Regions from separate parts of the Homo sapiens genome. Here region 1 is linked to region 2. Evidence: fine-mapped expression QTL. A gene starts in region 2. The other region holds a variant in brackets. All regions are shown on one strand. Distances are from middle to middle. Region 1 overlaps ATF7IP (activating transcription factor 7 interacting protein). Region 2 holds the start of ATF7IP (activating transcription factor 7 interacting protein).

What was found. PIP is the estimated chance that this variant, and not a neighbour inherited with it, causes the effect.
Region 1: its variant is the best candidate, but not a certain one, in a credible set for the expression of ATF7IP in whole blood (TOPMed, PIP 0.78).

What each region holds. Positions count from the first base shown.
Region 1 is chr12:14,431,431-14,440,692 of GRCh38, reverse strand. ATF7IP (activating transcription factor 7 interacting protein) reads right to left here. Exons shown (of 15, transcript NM_018179.5): 3 at 6,270-6,356; 4 at 4,442-4,587; 5 at 2,426-2,563. Among named protein-coding and RNA genes, the nearest start is that of ATF7IP, 70 kb to the right of the region's middle. The variant G/A (reference allele first, on the strand shown) is at 4,816.
Region 2 is chr12:14,360,434-14,369,695 of GRCh38, reverse strand. It overlaps ATF7IP (activating transcription factor 7 interacting protein), which reads right to left and starts at 4,014. Exons shown (of 15, transcript NM_018179.5): 1 at 3,869-4,014. LOC124902884 (a long non-coding RNA gene) reads left to right here and starts at 2,506. Exons shown (of 2, transcript XR_007063220.1): 1 at 2,506-4,347. RefSeq lists enhancers at 2,299-2,438, 3,795-3,854, 4,325-4,384, 3,616-4,433.

The DNA.
Region 1 (9,262 bases), 71 kb before region 2:
TATAAAATTGTGAATGTACTAAATAACAATGAATTGTACACTTTAAAACAGTTTGGTATCTGAATTTTATTTCCATAAAAAAACAAAATACTGGAACAAGACACAAAGAGATGGAATTAAATTGGGCACATGATCATGGGTGAGTGAACAGGGGAAACAATACGAAGTCAAAAGCCTGGTATCAAAATACAATAAACATTAATAGTACCCTGTAGGACAGTGAAGCAACTGGTGGATATTAGAAAAAGTGGATTGAAAATTAAGAGATTAAAATTTAAAAATTTTAAAAATGAATACTGGTTTTACCGGTACACAATTGAGGAACTTGGACTATAAAGAGACTGAAGTAATCAGTATTTTAGAAAAATTAGTACAATGCTTTGGAAGGACCAGAAAGAACTTAAAAACTAGTACCAGAGTGCTCATATAAAAGGTGTTACTATAATCAAGGAATTGGGTAATGATGGCCTAATGAAAAGTGAAAAGAATTGAGATTTATTTTTTCTAGGAAATAATCAAGTTGTAACTTGGCAACTCACTGTGTATATGAAATGATTGAGAGGGATCGGTTTCCAAGAATTCAAGAGCTGCCAATAAGAGGAACAACGGGAAGATTTTCCTTCAAGAGTTTTCCAAGAATTCAGAAATTGTCAGTAACAGGAACATTTGCAGAGAAGATGATTGGCTTGGTGTTAGAAAGATTCAAATTCTGAGACTACAAGCAACATTTAAGTACAAATTTAAATGTTAAGAAATCTGGATTGCACCTTATGTGTGAGATGATAGGTGTCGAAAACTGTTTTAGGATGGATGGATGGATGGATGGATGGATGGATGGATGGATGGATGGATTTATTTTGGAGACAGAGTCTCACTCTGTTGCCCAGGCTGGAATGCAGTAGCCCGATCTCAGCTCACTGCAACCTCCACCTCCCAGGTTCAAGCAATTCTCATGCCTCAACCTCCAAAGTAGCTGGGACTACAGGCATGCACTACCACACTCGGCTAATTTTTTTGTATTTTTAGTAGAGACAGGGTTTCACCATATTGGCCAGGCTGGTCTCTAACTGCTAGACTCAAGAGATTCACCTTCCTCAGCCTCCTAAAGTGCTGAGCTCACAGGCGTGAGCCACTATGCCCAGCCAAAAACTTAGGTTTTAAAAACACAATTTCATAGTTGCACCCGTGGGTGTGATGAGAAACAATGAATAAAATTATTCTTTCAAATCTTCAGGCATTTTCAAATTTAATTCAAAAGTCTGAACAGTACTAGTAAAATGAAGTTTAATAATTAGATAGGTCAGTCTGGGAGACACACTTAAATTCTAATCCTATTTAGCTAAAATTTTATTCGTAACGGAAAAAGTGATTTGACTTCCATGGGCCACTTTTCCTTCATTTGCAAAATAAGGCCCTATACATGGTTTACCACTCAGCATCTTTGGGATATGCTCATATATAAAATAACCCAATAGGAACCATACACTTACTTATGACAGAATGAATGTACTGATTCAAATACCAGCTTCTTAGCTTTGGAATAAAGTAGATTACTACAGCACACTACTGTGTGCTCATTTCAGCTGACCAGAAGCTCTGGTATTGTATGTTAAGATATAGTTGTACTTAATAAAAAATGACAAGTAGAAATTAATAAATACGTGTTATTAAACTAACATCTTTAAAACATAAGGTCCACGAAAGGAGGTAGATTAACATAAAAAGAATCCCTAACAAATATTATTTAGTACTTATTATAGCATGCTAAATGACAGCCTTCCTTTAGTGACTGGAAAAAAAAATATGAAGCACTAAGTTAGATCCAGGAATTTCTGAGTCTCCGTTATGGTTTGAACTGTGTCCCCTAAAAGTTCACATATTGAAGTCTAAACTTCCAGTATTTCAGACTGTGACCTTATTTGTAAAGAAGGTCATTGCAGAGGTAATTAGTTAAGATGAAGTCATGTTGGAGTATAGTGGGCCCCTACTCCAATGACTGGTGTCCTTGTAAAAAGGGGAAATTTACAGACACACATACAAGGACAACACCATGTAAAGATAAAGCCAGAGATCAGGGTGATGTTTCTACAATGCCAAAGAACTGTCCGCAAACCAACAGAAGCTACAGTAAAGGCATAGAACAGATTCTTCCTCACAGCACAGCCCTCAAAAAGAATCTACACTGCTGACACCTTGATCTTCAACTTCTAGCCTCCAGAACTGTGAGACAGAATATTTCTACTGTTTAAACCACTCAGTTTATTGCACTTTCTTTACAGCAGCCCTGGCAAACTAAACAAACTCCTTTTCCTTCTTACATTTAGAATTTAAATGTATTTTATAGTTAATCTCAAATATATATCTCAGAAAATAAGTTATAAAAACAATGACACATGGAGTATACAACTCAAGTCAATGTACAAACCTGTAGTTCAGTGAGAACTGTTTTATGCCTCTTGTTACATTCAATCTTTTCCACTCGTGTTTTCAATTCTGCCAAAGTCTTATCAAATACAGCACACTGCAGCGCACACAATTTTTCTTCCAGCAACCACTGTATAACCTAAAGAAACAAATATTCCTTCATTATGCCAAGAAGGCATTCCAGCAAGCAATAAACAGTAAATATTCTTTTTTTTTGAGACAGAGTCTCGCTCTGTCGCCCAGGCTGGAGTGCAGTGGCAGGATCTCGGCTCACTGCAAGCTCCGCCTCCCGGGTTCACGCCATTCTCCTGCCTCAGCCTCCCAAGTAGCTGGGACTACAGGCGCCCGCCACTACGCCCGGCTAATTTTTTGTATTTTTAGTAGAGACGGGGTTTCACCGTTTTAGCCGGGATGGTCTCGATCTCCTGACCTCGTGATCCGCCCGCCTCGGCCTCCCAAAGTGCTGGGATTACAGGCGTGAGCCACCGCGCCCGGCCAGTAAATATTCTTAAGTACCAAGAAGACAGTAATGACAAACTAACTTAATGAATAAAACATGCTAGAATCTGTAACACAATACTATCTGCTAAAATCCTCTACTTTTATATATATAAAATCTACTTCAAGAGGGTAATACATACTAAAAATAGAAAATTTCCAGAGAGTAAACTTTTAAAAAGTTCCATATTCTCATTATGGGTCCACAACAAAGACATTGGCACATACCCATGAACCATACTTGAGTAACACTGTTCTAAAGAAGTAAACTCTCAGGAAACCTCAGTTTTCAAAATTCTTTCACATAGCTACCTTCATAATTCTAACAGCTCTGTAAGAAAGACTGAATAAGCATTATTATCTCCATATGTCAAATAAAAAGAAACTAGGGGAAAAAAACAACACTGAGAGTTTCTACAGCCTCACTATTCTTTTTTCTACAAAGTGCAAATATGTATGCTATATTTTAATGAAAGAATTTTGTCCTAAAACATTGATTGTAAAATGTCATCCTTAAATATATAAGACCTTGAAAAACTAGTTATCATCGAAGTTTAATATTCCTCTCTAAGAAAAGCTTTGTAAAAACATTTGTGAACACATGTTGAAAAACATAAAATACTGAATATTTTCATTATTTCTATCTCTAGTCAAACAGATGTAAGGGGAATTTCAAACTCCGTATTCTAAATACTCCTTTCTCTAGTCCTTTTAACACCCTGTCTCTACCACTTTTATACTAACCCTCAAGTACACAATAAAGAGTTTAGAATGTAGACTTATAACCATGAAACCAGCTTTATAAAGATTAAAATGCTAATATTTAAAACTCTAACATTTCCTTTTCACAATAAGATAAAGTTCAATGTGAGAAGGAAAAAGAAAAGCTGAAAAACAACATTCAGTTTTGTTACCAAAGCAAATAAATAAAAATGTTACCTTCTCTCCCTTGTTTTGATAATCATAACCTTTTTTAAAAAAAAAAAAAGATGTAGCCAAAAAGAAGTCAGAAAGAATTTTAAAATTAAATTATCAAGGATAGTAATAGACTTATTTATTTATTTATTTATTATTTTTTTGAGATGGAGTCTTGCTCTGTCACCCAGGCTGGAGTGAAGTGGCATGATCTCGGCTCACTGCCACCTCCACCTCCCGGGTTCAAGTGATTCTCCTGCCTCAGCCTCCCAGGTAGCTGGGATTACAGGCACCCACCACAACATCCAGCTAATTTTTGTATTTTTAGTAGAGTCAGAGTTTCACCATGTTGGTCAGGCTGGTCTTGAACTCCTGACTTCAGGTGATCCATCCACCTCAGCCTCCCAAAGGATTGGGATTACAGGGGTGATCCACCACATCTGGCCAGTAATAGACTTTAAAAGCTCAACCACTTTCTTCAAGTTCTTTCTTTCTATGATAAACCACATTATGTCAATAAAATACAGAATAATGTCAGAAACCTAGAAGAAGATAGTGGTGCTATTTATTCAATATGGTTTATAACTTATAATTGACACAATACCTTTTGAAGTTTCTGGTTAATGTCTCCTTTGGCTGTAATCTTTACTTGAAATTCTGCCTCATATTCTTCTTCCATATATCGACGACGTTTAGACTGTACATTGTCCATGTCTTCTGATTTAGAACGTTTTCGTCTAGAAAATTCATCTGAGAAGGAAAACCACAATGATCACACTCAGGTGTTTTTCTTATAGCTCTTAATGCATATTATCCATCCTTAGCAAAATATTATTTCTATCATAATAGCCTTCTCAACCAACTATTTTGTAAACTGTTTTGGAGATCTTAGAAGGTATATAGCTTTTAGCTTTAAACTTCAAATGACTTTCAATATACTAAATAAGAACTCCCTAATGGTCAAGCAATGCACACTGT[G/A]AACACAGAATTTCCTTGAAATCTTCATACTAAGAACTGCCTCACAATTGTGTCATGAAGAAGGTAGATGAAATCATCTCATATTCATTCCTGTAACTAAATGTCACAGTGCACATGAATCCTCTGACAAAATATAGTATTCATTCTCATGTCAGATTTTTAACTATGCACAGCTTTAATTATTTATTCTTTTTCCTCCGTAAGTATAGGAAAAAATTCTTAATCATCAGCCTTACAAAACTAGCACAGTAATAGTTATTCTTAACATATCCTAATGAATTTCAAATAAAAATAAAATTAATGTCATTAAAAGTACATTTATAAAGAATATAGACTAGAAGACTTCACTTAGAAAATCTGTTTCACGTGCTGTTAATATTCATGAGATCATAAGCAAATTTGTATCTGGCTTCTTCAATATCTAAAAAAATTAAAACACTAATATCTTCACACTTTTTAAACGCAAATGCTCTTATGTGACCATGCCTATCCCTCTGTATGTGTCTGTATCTATATGCCTACTTGTAAATCCACTCTATTCTACAATTTCTCTTACAATCTTAACTTACCCATGGTCATATATGGATAGCAGCATGACAGGAAAGTTACTGAACCCAGCTTTCCTGACTTCTAGTCCAATGATCTTTCCATAAACCTAAGGACACTCAGTCCATCATTTCCTTCCCTTCCCATAAAGCTAAAGAACCTTATCTTTCCTTCCCTTTTCCTTCCTTCCTTCCTTCCCTCTTCCTTCCTTCCTGTCTCCCTCCCTCCCTCCTTCTCTCTCTCTCTCTCAAGGTGTCACTCTGTCACCCAGGCTGGAGTACAGTGGCTCAATCATTGCTCACTGGAACCTCAAATTCTTGGACTCAAGCAATACTACCACTGCAGCCTCCAAAGTAGCTGGGACTACAGGTGTGTGCCACCATGCCTGGCTAATTCAAATATTTTTTCTGTAGAGACAGGTTCTTGCTATGTCACCCAGGCTGGTCTTGCATTACTGGCCTCAAGCAATCCTTCCATCTTGGCCTCCCAAAGTGCTGGCATTACAGGGGTGAGCCACTACATCTGGCCCCATGAAGATGAAGAACCTTAAGTGAACTAAAATACATCCTTCCATTCACTTACGTTAGCCCATACAAAATTCTTGTAGTTTCATTCTCTAAACATAAATCTAAAACAATTTATCTCAAAACACTCAGTAACTTAGTAAATTTTAAGCTAAATCTTTCTGTGGAACAATAAAAAGTATAAATAAACAAAATAAAATATTGAAGTGTATGAAACATACTTTCAGAAATCCTTCAGTTAGCCATCAACAAAATGGTATAGTTGTGAAATTGCAAAATTTTACAATTATTTCATGGGCAAAAAAGAATATTACACGGTTGTAAATATAGAAACAGTGAATTATTATTTTTCAATCCAGTTCAAGTTTGTTTATACATGCATACTTTTCTCAGAAGGTCTTTCATCATCTTCATGTATTACTTGCTCTTCTTCCTCAGGTTTGTTGTCCTTTTCATTACTTTCTACTTCTGCTGTTAACAAATATAGAAAAGAAAATCTTACTTCTACTAGAATTCATAACAGCTCACTAATTTACATTTTTAGTCACTATCCAGTTACAAAACCAACCTTTTATGAAATCAGAGTCCCAAAATGTAAAATTTGGGGAGGGGAAAAGGGGAGCAGGAACTGATCGAATGAATGACCACGTCCACATTCAACTGTTCTGCAATTCAGAACAAACTCAACACAGGATTTAATCTTAATATAGATTTTAAGTAATTTAAAAAAATTACTTAATAATTTTCTGTCACCAGTAACATTAATAAAATGTGAAAACAACTGCTGTAGAGCATTTTGATTCCTTTACATTCAATAATTAAAACTAAAATAGTGCCTGTGACAATTATCAAAAAAATTCCAAACTACTGGAAAATTCAAAACAGGTTGAATCCTTAAGTTACTTTAATGCTTATGGTATAGAGAGTTCATAAATAAGGAATGGAAAGGCTATCCCAAATATAATAAAAACTTTAAATATATACCTACTTTGATAACAGTGCCAACAACTGAGCTAGGTGCTTAATATAGTTATCACATGGCCACAATATAATCTCACACTGTAAACTGTATTTTTTGTCATCATATAGATGAGGAAAACATTCAGAAGGGTTAATTTTCTTTTCTTTTTTTTTTTTGAGACTGAGTTTCGCTCTTGTCGCCCAGGCTGGAGTGCAGTGGGGCGATCTCGTCTCACTGCAACCTCCGCCTCCCGGGTTCAAGTGATTCTCCTGCCTTAGCCTCCTGAGTAGCTGGGATTACAGGCACCCGCCACTACATCCGGCTAATTTGTTTGTTTGTTTTTGAGATAGAGTCTCACTCTGTCGCCAGGCTAGTGTACAGTAGCGCAATCTCGGCTCACTGCAACCTCCACTTCCCAGGTTCAAGCAATTCTCCTGCCTCAGCCTCCCAGGTAGCTGGGACTACAGGCACCTGCCACCAGGCCCAGCTAATTTTTGTATTTTTAGTAGAGACAGGGTTTCACCATGTTGGCCAGGATGATCTTCATCTCTTGACCTCGTGATCCACCCCCCTCAGCCTCCCAAAGTGCTGAGATTACAGGCATAAGCCACTGCACTGGGCCTAAATTTTTTTTATTTTTAGTAGAGACAGGATTTCACCATGTTGGGCAGACTGGTCTCAAACTCCTGACCTCAGGTGATCCTCCCACCTCAGCTTCCCAAAGTGCTGGGATTACAGGCGTGAGCCACCTCGACTGGCCCAGAAGGGTTAATTTGCATGAGTCATATAAAATGTAACAACTGAAGAGTGCTGCCAAAAGATATTGCTAAAAATGTCTATACAATTATATTAAATAAAATCCAAGAGGTACCAAAACGTTCTTTTGGTCAATCAATCAATGTCTCTTCAACTAACCTACTCATTAAATGAGGAATAAGGGAGCTACAAAAAAAAATTCATTAAGATGTTTGACTTCTATTTTCCCCCTTACGTCATTGCAACTTGCTTCTCAGTGGCTTCAATAAAGCATGCTATGTTTCATCACGTTCTGCAACTAATATTAAATAAACAATCATAAAGTATATTATGCTATATAAAGATTCTGATAAGACATTTCTTCTCCAATCATCAGGATTTTAATCACAACAGCCCTAATAGCAAAAGTCAAGGTTAAAAAAATTTAAAAGATATTTTAGGTGAAAATAGGCAAGGACAAGGATCATTGATGAATACCTATTAAGGCGCTAGAAGTATTTTTTTCACTGTAAGATAAACAATAAGCTAACACAGTACACAGAATTACTAAAACTATTTTTGAACTTTAAAATAAATTATTTGAAAATTAACTCTCCATTTACTACCCTTTGCTCATTTTAAGTGTTTTAAGACCTCATCTCTCAACCTCAGTTTCAGTGAAATAAAAATTTGTTTGCTTTCTTGTAAACAGATCACAAACTCATTAAAATACATTTTTCTTTCTATATTTTTCCATATCTTTCTGATTTTAATACTCATTGTTAGTAACTCCTGAGCTTCCTAGTCCCCAGAGTTTCCAGAGAGACAGAGTAACTGGGATGCTTGAGATGAAAGGTTTACATAGTCTTTATTTAGCAAATCCTCACATCGCACAAAGCACAAAATTAGCCATGGCTCCAATTAGAGTGACTCCAAGCCAGAGCATCCAGAACACAGCAGAATAAACTGGCCTGCTATGGTTTGCCTCTTTTATACGCATGTTAGTTTCCTCTCCATATGTCAAGCTCAGCTTGAGATTTCTTCATTTTATTCAAAAACCTCCTCCTATCACCCAACTCCCAGTTTCCAGATATGCTTAGAAGATATTACTGGATCCCCAACACTTAAAACACTCAGAATTCACAGAATTAAAATAGAGTTGCTAGAGTTTTTTGTAACGGAAAGAACTTGGGATTTAAAAAATGGTATTAACAAATTCTACAGAGACGGGTAGGGCCTTATATTTCTTTAATTTTATTTTGTCCACAAAGCCTGAAGAAAAACTAAGAATGGGTCTCCTTCAACCCAGAGTAATAATCAAAGGCCCTTGGTACACAGACAACTTTAGACATAATTTCAGGTAGTTCCTGGGACTCCTGAAACTCATCCAAATAGTAGGTTAACAATGTCTTTTTTACTGCCGGGTGTGGTGGCTCACACCTATAATCCCAGCACTTTGGGAGGCCGAGGCGGGCGGATCACAAGGTCAGGAGATCGAGACCATCCTGGCTAACATGGTGAAACCCTGTCTCTACTAAAAATATAAAAAATTAGCTGTATGTAGTGGTACATGCCTGTAGTCCCAGCTACTCGGGAGGCTGAGACAGGAGAGTCGCTTGAACCCGGGAGGCGGAGCTTGCAGTGAGCCGATATCGCACCACTGCACTCCAGCCTGGGTGAC
Region 2 (9,262 bases):
AAGTTTATTAAAACTTCCAGAAAAAGTTCTAGTAAAAAATTAACAAAACACATGAACAAGGCTGTGCACGGTGGTTCACACCTGTAATTCTAGCACTGTGGGGGCCAAGGCAGGCAGATCACCTCAGGTCAGGAGTTCAAGACGAGCCTGGCCAACACGGGGAAACCCCGTCTCTACTAAAAGCAGGGCATGGTGGTGCACGCCTGTAATCCGCTACTTGGGAGGCTCAGGTAGCAGAATCGCTGGAACCCAAGAAGAGGTTACAGTGAGCCAAAATCACACCACTGCACTCCAGCCTGTGAGACAGAGCTAGACTCCACCTCAAAAAACAATAATAATAAAATAAAATACAATATAAACATACAATTCACCTTACAACAGGTAATATTTTCTGGGCAGACAAGTGCTGTAGAAATCATAAAGGAAAAAGGAAAGGCAGTACAGGCTGGACATGGTGGCTCATGCTTGTAATCTCAGCACTTTGGGAGGCTGAAGTGGGAAACTCTCTTGACCCCTGGAGTTCAAGACCAGCCTGGGCAACATAATGAGGCTTTGTTTATTAAAAAAAAAAAAAAAAGAAAAAATTAGCGGGGTGTGATATCCTTCACCAGTAGTCTCAGTTACTCCAGTGGTGGGAGAATTGCTTGAGCCTGGGAGGTCGAGGCTGCAGTGGGCAGAGATCACTGCCACTGCACTTTAGCATGCGCAGCAGAGCAAGATCCTATCTCAAAAAAAAAAAGGGGGGCAGTACATTTTACTACATAAAAATGCAAAACTTCTTAACATATACAATCATAAACCACTTAAAAGGTAATTTTAAAATTACTGTGACAAATATTAAAAGCTAAGGACCCCAAAGCCGTAAGTAGCTGTTACCAACAAATAAGAAAAACAGTAACACTCATCATAGAAAAATACACAAAAAGTCAAACAGCTAATTCACAGAAAATGAAAAAAATGCATATATAAAACAATAACAAATTCAACTTCACTAGTTATCAAAAAAAGTTAATGAGCTACTATTTTTCACCCATCTAATTGATGGTGGTATTGAATATGATAAAAAATGCTTTTCAAAAAAAAGTTTTTATCAATTTTGCAAATTACTTTAAAAGTCCTTTGAAAGTAATTTCAAAGAAATATTCTGAGGTATAGTACAAGAACGTTCACTGTAGCATTATTTTTAATAGAGAAATGAGCAAAAAGCAAAACAGGAAACAAAAAATGAAAGGTTTAATAAATCACAGTAAATTCTTCTTAGAGATAACAATAATATGTAACCATTTTAAAATGTGTTTAAAAAGAACATTTGATCATGTGGGATATTATAATAAAGTATCATGCAACCATTTAAAGACATATTTTAGAAGAATAATGAAATGGGAAAATACTCATAACATTAAAAGAGTAGAAATGAAATTATGGTACCAATGAAAAACTAATTAATAAACATTTATAGATTGCTCAATCATGGAAAAGTGAAGTCACAAATCACCAATACCTTTAGAGTGGTTATTTCTAAGCATTGTTAATTAATTTTCAATATTTTCCAAATGTTCTATAATGAATAAGTTTAAAAATATTTAAATACATTTATCACATATGCAAAACCTAATTTAAAGAAAAAATAGTTCTAATTGTTTAATAACTCAAACCTGTCTTTTCTAAACTACATATAAATTTTTAAATTTACAAAACTACAAAGATTTTAAATAACTTCAGTAACTTGGTATTCATTCCTGGAGTAACCTAGTCTTAATATTTATATATGTTGGATATGTGTCAAAATTTTGTGGCATCATAACCACCAAACTAAAATTTTAAAATATACTTGTTATTGACAAAGTACTAATAAACAAATAGTTGGTGTTCAGGCAATTAATTAATCTTATTAAGTTTACATGATTATATCTGCCTTGTAAGAAACATGACAGCAAAATCGTCCCATCAATAAATATGTTCTTCATATTCAAGAGCATTTTCAAATACCTCTTACTACCTTCAATATTAACCTAAAAAGCAATCATCTGTATATTCAAATGAAAACATACGCTTATATACACCAAACTATTTCATTTTTCTGGAAATGTAAAGTGTACCATGCCCTAAGATCAAAGATCAAAGTTCTTTTGTTAACCGAAATATTTATGTGTATGTTCAACTCGAAAATGCCTGAAATAGCATGTGGTAGAAAGGGGCTGCTAGGTAACCACTCCAGAAACATAAAAGGGAGAAAATTACACAACTGCTCTCTAAATATACTTCTGTGTAGAAGACCTCAGAGATCCAAGAATTACATCAGGTCAAATATTCTCTTGAGAAAAAAAGAAGAATCTTTCCTACCTCCATTCTATCTCATATGTGACGTCATTTAAAAATCCACCAACCAAAAGTATTACTTTCAATTACATCTAGGTAATATTTACTAATGGTATTTGTTTTAGGCAATAAAAATTTCCCTAAATTAACCGAGATTATAAAGCAAGAGGCACGTCTTCATTTGACAGTAGACTGATTCAAACTTAAAGAGTTATAACCAACCAAGAAACCAGTTGTTGTATATATGAACCACAAATGAAGTCTATGGAAAACATTTGCAAGTTTCTTTGCTTAGTAAGAAAGAATTTGCACAACGGGAGAATCATATCAAATCTTATATAACTTCCCCCAATTGTGTTACATAAGATTTAACTATAGTTGACACTACCATTTTAAACTAATCAGTAGCATATTTATAATTACCTTCCCTAAAAAACTATTAATAAAACCAGGAGCACACTTACAATTAAAAAATCAAACACAACTGTATCTTACACACATGCATACAGTACAGTGTTTAAAAGAAAAAAACAGATTTTTTTTATTAATGGTCCACTTTCTTCAAAGAGGCCTCAGGGTAATGGATGTTCTTTCTAGAATTCTTCATCAGAAAAATTTACCAAATAAATGTTATAGCTTACATATCATAGCAAACAAAAATGCTAAGAAAATGAGTTGATTAATTTCAAAAGTAACAATAATCTAGCTGAAGCAGTAATGAACAAGTCACCTAAGAAACTTAAAACATGTAAAATTCAAATGCCCAGAAACATACAAACTGATTAAAATTAAAACTTTATTTACTTAGGATCAAACATTTAAAACCAAAATAATCCTCAGATTGAGATTTCATTTTCGATTATACTGTAATTTCTTCCACTATTCCCGTTCCCCCAATATTCCCAAAACTAAAATTGTTTCTGTTTTGTAAACATTCCACACATCCATAACAGAACAGGTAAAAATAGGGTTAAAAATGTATTTGCAAATATGCAGTTCAAATAAATGCACTTCCCGTGAGAACACCACTAGGTGCTGATCTTTACCACCGTAAATATAAACCTGAATCCAGTAATACTTTAAAACTGAAATTATAATCAAGAACCACAAATGAAAATCATTTTTACAGAAAATTAAGTCCACAATTTTTCAAAAAATCGAAAAAACAGAGAAGAGCTTGAGGTCGGCCCAGGAGTACAACATTAGAGTAATGTTTTTCTTGAAAATTGTGAGAATTTAAGGTTAACACAAAGAAACCCCTCAAGAACGAGGAAAATTAAATCTAGAACCCAAATGGCGTCCAACAAGAACATTAGATCTTGAAAATGAATATTGCGCTTGCGCAGCCACCGCCCCGCCAGCTGCACAACTGCAGCTAGAGCCCGACCCCGCAAGATCACGTGCTCCCATGCAGCGCCGCCCGCAGCTCCGCAACCGCGCAGGCGCAGACACAACTCCCGCAGCCGCCATAATGCGGTCTTGACTCTTCAGAAATACAATAGTAATTTAAGAAAATGTGGTTTTAACAGCCCCTGGGATTCACATATACCTTTTGGGGCGGAAGCTGAGGGAGGGGGAACCAAGTTCCTTCCTACAGAGCCGTCCCGCGCAGCCGTCCCCGACGTTGCCGCCTCAGCTTTTCGCGCGCTTCAGTCGCCGCGCCGCCGCTGCCACCGCCGCCGCCTCCGCAGATTCAAAAACAAACCCGCTTCTCCCTTGCACGCGCCGGGGCCGTTATGCAAATTAATATGGGCGGGGCTCCGGGGGGTCGTGCTATGTACCCCGCCCACTGTGCTATCAGCCAATAAGCTCAAGGACTAGCCATTCCCCATGCAAATTCTGGTTTTTTATTTGAATGAGGGACATTGGCCCCGCCTCCTGCGTGGAAAAGAGAAGGAAGCCCGAGGTGGTGGCGCTGCGTCTCTCAGTTGCAGTGTGAGGTGTGTTTTTTGAGTGGATCTTCCTCAATCAATAAGTAGCACTTTGTGAGCGCCCTCTATGAGGCTTAGAAAAGAAAGAAGGAAGGAGGTAGGTGAGAGTTTAAAGAGCAGAGGGAAAGATTTTCATAAAAGCCAGGAGTATGTTGATTTATTCATCATTTATGTTTTAAATTCACAGAATGTACTTTGAATTGTATTAATAATGAAGGAATGAAAAAAACATACTTTCTTTCAGTTGCTTGGTAACAGAGCAAGCACTTTTTATCATACTCTCTCACCAGAAGTTGTATTCATCCCATTTATTCAATTTCATGCTGGGAGTCGGCCTTTAATGAATTCCACAGGAGGTAGTGGACAAGTCACTGCCTTACTGGTTAAGAGATCTGGGTTCAAGTTCAACTACTGCAGCTTCCTTGCCGGTTCCTCGGAATAAGTGTGTTACTCAGTTTTCTCACCTGTATAATGGCAATCATGACTATAGTTGAACTAGGTTGGAAGCACTAAATGATAGAATAAATGTACATATGTTTTGGCCAGGTGCCGTGGCTCAGGCCTGTAATCCCAGCACTTTGGAAGTCTGAGGGGGGGTGGATCACCTGAGGTCAGGAGATCAAGACCAGCCTGGCCAACATAGTGAAACCCCGTCTCTACTAAAATTACAAAAATTAGCTAGGCATGGTGGTGCGTGCCTGTAATCCCAACTACTCAGGAGGCTGAGGCAGGAGAGTTGCTTGAACTGGGACCTGGGAGGCCGAGATTGCAGTGAGCGAAGATCTCACCACTGCACTCCAGCCTGGGCTACAGAGCAAGACCCCTTATCAAAAAAAAAAAAAAAAAAAAAGAATAAAAGTACATATGTTTTGCAAGGCAAGAATAGCCTGAAAATAATATTAGATGGTACCGTGTGGTTATTGTTTTTTTATGTAACTTCTCATTATATGAATGTATTGGTTCAGTATTTATTTAGCAATCACTGTGTTGTAGATCTGTTAGGTGCCTGTCCTCAAGAAATCTGTACTCTAGTGAAGAAGACAGAAAACTGAACAAGAAATTTTTGTAACTAATAAGAAATTAGAATAGGGTTGTTAATACTTATTTTTATAACTGGAACCATTCAATTTACTTAAAATATAAGGTGGCCTTTAGAAATATCACCTAGGGCCGGGTGCAGTGGCTCACGCCTGTAATCCCAGCACTTTGGGAGGCCGAGGCGGGCAGACCATGAGGTCAGGAGATCGAGACCATCCTGGGTAACATGGTGAAACCCCGCCTCTACTAAAAATACAAAAAAAAAAAAATTAGCTAGTCGTGGTGGCACGCGCCTGTAGTCCTAGCTACTCGGGAGGCTGAAGCAGGAGAATCACTTGAACCCGGGAGGCAGAGGTTGCAGTGAGCCAAGATCACGCCACTGCACTCCAGCCTGGGCAACAGAGTGAGACTCCATCTCGAAGAAAAAAAAAAGAAATATCACCTAATCCAGACCTAGAGAATTAGAAAAGCCTTCCTAGAAGAGGTCATCTCTATCATGATAAATGATTTAATTAATTTTTTGCCTAAAAGTTGGACCTCATTGGGACAGCAATGAGGAATCATTTAAAAGGTTTTAAGTCGGGATATAACACAATTAAATTTGCATTGTTTAATCGCTAAATGTTGTAACATCATTAGCACAGTCCTTAGCATATACTCAATAAATTATAGATGCTCAATTATAATTTATTTATTATAATTTTCATAGTACATCAGTGCTCAATTATAAGTAGATGCTCAGAAAATTAGAAATATTGATATTAAATGTTACACTCCATAATAATAAGAGAAATTGGATTGGAATACTAGAGCCCATTATGTTTCTCTTTTTATGTCTTCTGTAAGCATATAAAAAAGAATCATTTTTATAATAGTCTATTCTTTTTTTTTTTTTTGAGACAGAGTCTTGCTCTGTTGCCCAGGCTACAATGCAGTGGCGTGATCTCAGCTCACTGCAACCACCACATCCCGGGTTCAAGCAATTCTCCTGCCTCAGCCTCCTGAGTAGCTGAAATTACAGGCGTCCACCACCGCGCCCAGCTAATTTTTGTGTTTTTAGTAGAGACAGGATTTCACCATCTTGGCCAGGCTGGTCTCAAACTCCTGACCTCATGATCCACCCGCCTCGGCCTCCCAAAGTGCTGGGATTAAAGGCGTGAGCCACCACATCTGGCCTTCTTTCTTTTTTTTTTTTTTTTTTTAAGACAGTCTTGCCCTGTTGCCCAGGCTGGAGTGCAGTAGCACGATCTCAGCTCACTGCAACCTCTGCCTCCCAGGTTCAGCGATTTTCCTGCCTCAGCTTCCTGAGTAGCTGGGACTACAGGCACACTCTACCACGGCCGGCTAATTTTTTGTATTTTCAGTAGAGATGGGGTTTTGCTATATTGGCCAGGCTGGTCTCGAACTCCTGGCCTCAGGTAATCTGCCCACGTCAGCCTCCCAAAGTGCTGGGATTACAGGCATGAGCCACCATGCTTGGCCTATGATAGTCTATTCTTGATTATCCATGCTAATAGCAAATGGAAAAATAATTCAGCATAACCACAGATTTATCAGTTTTCTTAGATATGCTCATATTCTAGACTTGCCTCCTGAAGACTCCAACTAGACAATTTTATTGGATTCGAATCTCCTCAGATATCCTCAACCACAGTTACAGTCTCTTCAGCCATGCAAACCCGCTGGTTGACCTAATCAACTATTCATTGATTTGTTCAATGAATACAATATTTATAATGTCTCACAAACTATTCTGGGCACTGGGGATGCCCAAAGGAAATGACACTGTTTCTCATGGGGAAAGAGTTGTAAATACAGATAAACATTATGAGATCATTAATATTTTGGTGGTATGTCTTAAGCATAAAAAAATTCTAAAATGAGAGAACCTAAATCTTCCTCATACTATATGGGAAAACTTCACAGAGGAAGTGATACTTGACCTGACTTATGATGTAGAACTTTGTACCTAGGCTGTCAGACTAGGTACAAAAGAAAGTATTCAAGTTAGAAAATAACAGAAAATACAAAAACAATGAAGAATGAAAAAAGCTGAACTTAAGACTTCTAGGTAGGACCACATTTAAAATATTTATCAATCCCTATATCACTGACCAATCAGAATGGAAGCAGGCTTGAAGACTTCCCTCCCCCCACCCTATTTTGTCAGGTGTTAATTCTTTAGTTGTAGGATCTTGAAGAGGTCCAGAGGCTCTTCAGCTGGGGACTGAGCCTGACTTGGTGGTATGAAGGGTGTGGTAGGATGGGGCAGCTACTTACCAGTTAGTACAAAAGGATTTTCATATTTTATCTACCATTATGTTTTTATTGGTATATTTAGGCTAAAATGATACAGGCTAAATATAATTTTCCTAGGAAAAAGTGCTAGAGTAAAGTAGGATCATAGAACCTGTCTCACAAAAAAAGAAAAAAAAAAAAGACCTAAACTAAAATAATAAATATAAACCAATACATTTCAGTTGTAGCAACTGAACAAAGAAAACAGAACTTTTTAAAAACAGCATAGGCCGGGCGCGGTGGCTCACACCTGTAATCCCAGCACTTTGGGAGGCCGAGGTAGGTGAACCACCTGAGGTCAGGAGTTCGAGACCAGCCTGACCAACATGTTGAAACCCCATATCTACTAAAAATATAAAATTAGTCCCACGCCTGTAATCCCAGCTACTTGGGAGGTTGAGGCAGGAGATTTGCTTGAACCCAGGAGGCAGAGGTTGCAGTGAGCTGTGATCATGCCATTGCACTCCAGTCTGGGCAACAAGGGCAAAACTCCATATCAAAGAAAAAAAAAGAAAAACAGCATAAACTCCGAAAAGCCATTGAAATGGAAAACTGAAGTTTCTGAGTACAAAATAATAAAACAGGAAGCTTAATCTAGTGCTTTCAGGTTCTGAAGGCTTACTACCTGAATTGAAACCTTGGCTCTACTTCTTACTTGTTTAGTGTCCTGAAATTCTCTACGCAAATGTTTCCCAGTCTATAAAATGGGGATGATAAAAATAGCCCTCCCGAGCAAGCACAGCTCATGCCTGTAATCCCAGCACTTTGGGAGGCAGAGGCAGGTGAATCACTTGAGCCTAGAAATTCCAGACCAGCCTGGACAACATGGCAAAACCAGTCTCTACAAAAAATACAAAAATTAGGCTGGGTGCAGTGGCTCATGCCTGTGATCCCAGAACTTTGGGAGGCCAAGGTGGGCGGATCACTTGAGGTCAGGCGTTCAAGACCAGCCTGGCCAACATGGTGAAACACCGTCTCTACTAAAAATACAAAAGTTAGCCAGGTGTGGTGGTGCATGCCTGTTATCCCAGCTACTCGGGAGGCTGAGGCAGGAGAATCGCTTGAACCTAGGAGGCAGAGGTTTCAGTGAGCCAAGATGGTGCCACTGCACTCAAGTCTGAGCAACAGAGTGAGACTCGGAATCAAAAATTAATTAATTAATTAATTAATATAAAAATTAGCCCAGTGTGGTGGTGCATGCCCGTGGTCTCAGCTACTTGAGAGGCTGAGGTGGGAGGATCGCTTGAGTCTGGGACGTGGAGGTTGCAGTGAGGGGAGACTGGGCCACTGCACTCCAACCTGGGTAATGGAGTGAGATAGTCTCCAAAATAAAAATAAAAAAAATATGGCTAGGCGCAGTGGCTCACGCCTGTAATCCCAGCACTGTGGGAGGCTGAGGCCAGCAAATCATAAGGTCAGGAGTTCAAGACCAGCCTGGCCAACATGGTGAAACCCCCGTCTCTACAAAAAATACAAAAAAAATAGCTGGGCGTAGTGGCAGGCGCCTGTAATCCCAGCTACTCGGGAGGCTGAGGCAGGAGAATCACTTGAACCTGGGAGGTGGAGGTTGCAGTGAGCCGAGATCGCACCACTGCACTCCAGCCCGGGTAACAAAGTGAGAGACTTCGTCTCAAAAAAAAAAAAATTATATATATCCCTGATCTCTTAAGGTTATT